Linked DNA regions of Homo sapiens: region 1 is linked to region 2. Evidence: fine-mapped expression QTL. A gene starts in region 2. The other region holds a variant in brackets. All regions are shown on one strand. Distances are from middle to middle.

What was found.
Region 1: its variant is fine-mapped to the expression of MOSPD2 in whole blood (TOPMed, PIP 0.97).

Annotation. Positions count from the first base shown.
Region 1 is chrX:14,816,726-14,819,225 of GRCh38, forward strand. It overlaps a transcript of FANCB not described here. Among named protein-coding and RNA genes, the nearest start is that of FANCB, 55 kb to the right of the region's middle. The variant C/T (reference allele first, on the strand shown) is at 1,103.
Region 2 is chrX:14,871,818-14,874,837 of GRCh38, forward strand. It overlaps MOSPD2 (motile sperm domain containing 2), which reads left to right and starts at 1,604. Exons shown (of 15, transcript NM_152581.4): 1 at 1,604-1,720; 2 at 1,872-1,941. The coding sequence starts at 1,712. It overlaps FANCB (FA complementation group B), which reads right to left and starts at 1,252. Exons shown (of 10, transcript NM_001018113.3): 1 at 1,169-1,252. RefSeq lists a silencer at 1,342-1,571.

The sequences.
Region 1 (2,500 bases), 55 kb before region 2:
AACCACTTTTCTAAGTTTCCTTTGACCAGTAAATCATCTAAAAGGATGAAGATGATCTAAAACATCAACTGGCCCATATAGAGGTGGAGTAGACCAAAGATGAAAGAAACACCTTCTCCTAGATCTACCACTTATTTCCCCTGTGACTTTGGGCAAGTTTCTGAACCACTCTTTACCTTATCTATAAAAGGAGAATAATGTTACCTAGCTCACAAGCTTATTGTAAGAATTAAATGAGACACTACCTACTATTTTCTCTCTGTTTTGGGAAACATCCTATTATATGCCCAGTTCCTATATAGACACAGGGAGTCTATTTCTGAACTTTCCGTTCTCTTCTATTTGTGTCTCTGCATATTTCTGTGAGAATTCCCCACTGTTTTTATTAACCATTATTATTATTAGCCCTCTATTATCCACAGGTGACTTGTCTGAGAAACTCGGCCATTTGGAAAGAGGCTGGAAACTGAGAAGTGAAGAAAAAGGCATGTAGAAGCCCTGCACTAAAGGTCAGATACATTTCTCACCATAAAGCCCCCCAAGGTTATTAAGATGGTTTATAAATTATTTCCTCCTCTGCCCCTACATCCTCTTGTGCCTCGCATACAGGTATAGACACCCAATAAATGATTGCTGAGAAACGAAATGACCAATTTCAGACATAAGGCAAACAAGATTATCATTATCAGGCTTCTCCACATCACCAAAGAAGTCCCAAATTAGGTAGGATAGGGATAGGGAAGGTGTTAATACAATCAGAACTGGTGTCAAGATGTCAGTAGTAAGAAGTAACAGGTCTGACATTAAAAGAGTAAATTAAAGGGCAGACATTAATTTAAAAATAAAAACTACATGCTCTGGAGAGTAAGCAGCCATAAACACCACAATAACCCCCTAGCTGCATTACATTGTCAGCGCATAATAACTGACATTCCTAATAATGACTCTGACATTTTGAAAAAAATGCTAATTTCTGTTCAGCATGTTCCATTTAAAAAAAATTCAGGGTAGTGTATAAGGCATTTGAAAAAGATTTCCATCACAGACTTGTAAAATATGTGATTTGCAATGCACTTTAGGGATTACCTAATCTAATTGTTTT[C/T]TAGATGAAGAAAGTCAGTTCCGGAAAGATGAAGTGCACTTGCCCAAGGTCAGGCACCAGAGAGACAGAAATGGAATAAAGGCCTTAGTTTGCCAACTCCACAGCAACTGCTTTTTCCACTGCTGCACATCTGCACAAACATAAATATATATTTTAAATTTATTACGAGTACCAAATTTAATATTTGGCAACTCAACAGGGATAGACTTCAAATATTTGGAATTTCCCTCACTGAGCTATTAATAAACCGGTCCTCATTGAGCCTTTGTATTGCTCAAAAAAATTAGATCTGATGGGTGGGTGTCAAAGGAGTGAGAAAGCATAATGCTTGACTCAGGTGAATTTTTAGAAGGGAGGGTAAGATTTACATGTAAGAAGTCAGAGCTATGGAAAGCAGTAGGGAGAGTGGTGCCCTGGGAATGGAGGGATAGGAAATGGCAACCCATGACTGCTCGTCAAAGAAGGTACGGGGTGGGGTGGGGCAGATCTCTTGGGCTGGACCCAGAAGCATATCTGAGTTGGACCCAGAAGCATATGTAGGCCTTATTAAAAAAAAAAAAAAAAGAGAGAGACTCTAGATGTGAAGAACATTAGAAAACACTGGCGGGGGGTTGGGTGGAAGCCTGGATCATGTTCCAAAACATTCATTCAAACAAACAATTTAATAAGCATGAGTTACTTATGAAGATTGGGGGGGATGTTATAGAAAATATTAAAAATTGAGGCTTCCCTGGAAAATCTAAGTTGAAGGGATGAGAGAATAAGGAAAATGGTCCAAACTGCTCTAGAAGGGCACTATCTGGTAGAAATATAACGCATGCCACACATATAAAGTTTTCTAATAAACCCATTAAAAAAGCAAAAAGCAACAGTTGACATTTACTTTAATATTTTAACTAATTCAGTATATCCAAAATGCTATTATTTCAATATGCAATTGATATTCAAAAATTATGGAGACGTTTTACATTATTTTACTCGTACGAAGTCTTTGAAATATAATGTGCATGTCACACTTAAGCATATCTCAATTTGGGTACTAAATTTTCAACAGAAGCACTTGATCTGAACTTAGATATGGTAAAATTTGCAACTGAAAAAGTGAATTCACATACTCAAGTTGTTCCAAACACACTTAAAAGTTTTCCAATAATTGCATCAAATATCAAAAAATCATCTTCCATTAATATTCAAATCCACACCGACAAAACTGCTTCAGTTTTTTAAATTTAAATGCCAATTAACTAATAGTAATTCAAAGTTCAGTTCCCCAGCCCCCCTGGACAAATTTCAAGAGTTGAGTCATACAGGTGGCTAGTGGTTATGCATTAGGCAGCTCAGGTCTAGAAGATGGGTTCTAGGGGTGGAGCAGGGTTGTCCCATGACATAAGGCCCTTG
Region 2 (3,020 bases):
GTACTATTTTTTTTTTTTTTCCTGAAGAAACAGTGCCAGGTACTGCTCTAAGCACTTTGGATTAACTCGTTTCTTCCTCACAACATCCTTATGACATAGGCACTGTTACTATCCCATTTTATAGATGGAGAAACTGAGGCAAGGAGTTTCAGGATCTTCTCAAAGGCTTGCAGATAAGAAGTGACAGAGCCAGGATTCAAACCCAGGCAGTATGATCCAAAATAAAAAAATGTAAAACTGTAAACATTTCATGCCAAATTCTGAATGCTGTTGATTCTGGACAAGGAAGTGTCCAGGATAGGTGAGTAGAGGTAGAAGGAGACTTTAGTTATATCTGAAATATCTTTTAAGGATGTAGTCAAACAACGTTTAAACAATGTGTTCATTTTTTCCCATAAAAAATGTAAATATATTTAAAAGTCTAGGACAAAAGATGCTAACATGCCATTCTGTCATGGATGACTACGGTTGATGGAAATATGGGGGACTATTCTTACAACTTGTTTGTAGTTTTCAGTATCTTTCAACTTTAAAAAAGGCAATATTGTATGCGCAACTATTTTCTTTCAATTGTTTTTAACTGACGAATAAAATTTGTTCCAGTCCCTTTAAATCTAAATCTTTCTCAACCTTGACACTATTGACATTTTGGGCTGGATAACTGTTGTGAATTTTCATGTACACTGGAGGATGTTTGGCAGCTTCCCTGGTCTCTATCCACTAGTAGCCAGTGAGCATCTCTTTTGCCCCCGGCCCCTAGCAGTGGTGACTAAAAATGTCTCCAGAGGTTGCCAAAGGTCCCCTGGGTGGTAAAACCGCCCCCCCCACACACACCCCCCCACCCCCCCGGCTGAACACAACTACCTTAATAAGCCGAAACACGCTTTTTTTAACTTTATATAATTATTTGAGATTAAAGATTTCAGAGATATTTTGCTCATTAAGCATCTCACACTCCAAGTTGGAAGGATACTGAAGGGATGAAAAAAACTTCAAGCGAATGTAGCACTTAAAATCCAATTATCATTGCAAGGAATGACAGACCCAGGTCTCGGGATGCCCGCTTCCTTCCCTCTCTCCCGCAATGCGGGGACAAGGGGAGGAAATCCAGCCCCATCGCCCCCTCTGCGAAGTCCTGGGAAGGGAAGACTCGCCAGCCCCATCCTACCTCAACGCAGCGGCAACATACCGGAGGCCCCACGTCGATACGGTATCCATCTGCTCCAAACCTCCCGCCAGCGCGCTGCATCCTGGGAGGCCGGGCGGAGGCTGCGTCGAACGCAGAGGAGGCGGAGCCTAGAAGCCAGCCAGGAGAGGTGGCCAAGGGAGGCTGAGGAGGCGGGGCCCTGGGGAGTGTTGTGAAAGCAGAGAGCCCGCGAGCTCTCTAGGGCGGAGCTCCGCGGGGGAAGCGCCGGCGATCTCGCGGCTGGCGGGGGCGGGACCGCAGTGCGGGGGATGTCGCGGGGCGAGGCCAGACGAGAATCGAATGGGACCTAGGCTGAGGGCCTGGTCCCGCCTCCAGACCCAGGCGTCCGCATTGGATTGGGCGGTGCGGCGGCGCTTCTGTCCGCCTTCCGGTGTCACGCGACCGCCTCCCCCTCCCACCCTTCTCTGTCTACCTCTGGGCGGGACTGCCGGGTGATGAGATACTCGGTCGGCGACGGTAGAACGGGCGACGGCGACAACCGCAATCACATCCACGACGGTGATCATGGCAGAGGTGAGGAGCCTATTGCACCGCCGCTGGCCCCCCGGACCCGGAAGCCGCCTCTGAGGCCCGGGGACCGAGCGCCCGTGTGCAGGTGGGCTGGGTTGAGGGTAAGCGGGTTGATGCAAGTAGTATCTAAGGTCCCATCGTGTCTCCCATCCAGAATCACGCCCAGAATAAAGCCAAGCTCATCTCTGAGACCCGGAGGAGGTTCGAAGCTGAGTATGTGACAGGTGGGTACTCTGTTCCAGGTATTAAGAAAGGTGTGCAGTGAGCATCCCCAACTTTGCTGGAGTGTTTGTGAGTGTATTTGTGGGAGGTGTTAGGGACCCTTTCGACCCTCACAGGAATGATGCTGGGCACGTCTCAAAGGTTTTCCTCTCCATGACAAGCCGTGTGCACTGCTTCAAATGGTCAAGTGGTGTGTCCCATGCTCCCTTTAAAGGGTTAATGTAAGTTGGAAATCGGTTAAGTTTTTAGCATGCCCTCGTGTTTATGGAACTTGCAGGATACTTGTTAGGCCCACAACACGGGTGACATTGTCCAGTCCACGGTTCCACTGCTGGCCTTTCACCAGCAACACTAGCGAAAATGTACCTGGAAACTGCCATAATACTATTGATGTGTACTTAATTGGGTATACAAATTCCTTGGATATTTTGTTTGATTTGGCTTTCATACAACCCAGCATGCTACCCACAAAATAGGCCCTCCAATGCTGGAACAAGTTCTTATCCCAAACTGTATCTTGCAAAGTACCTATGAGTCCAGAATTGATTTATTGGTTGAACATTCTGTGTCCAGATGTCACAGATACTTGAGTTGTCAGGTACTTAACTGAATATTTAATGCTTGTACAGTAATTTTGTAAAACATACGGAATAACTTATTGTAAATATGGAATTAAATAAGGATTTATATGTTGCCTACCTTAAGATTGATTGTAATCCTAACCCTGCCACTACATAGCTTACTTGTCTATTCTGAGCCCGTTTTCATATCTGTGAAGTGCAAATAATAAAGTTAGTAGGATTAAATTTTTTAAAAAAACATAAACCATCTAGCATGTCTTAAAATATAGTGGATTCTCAGTGAATATTTTGCCTCAGTTGTCATTTTGGTTACTGTGAAAGGAGTTAAGCTTCTACATCTTGACTAGTACTCAGCAGAGGTTCCCTGCAACTTTAAACCATCCTAGATTATACATCAGTTGATGACATAGAACAAATATGGAAATCGGTTTCAAATACTTGTCAGTAAATCTTTTCATACCTCCTTGCCAATTTTCTTCACACCCCAAACTTTGTTCCAG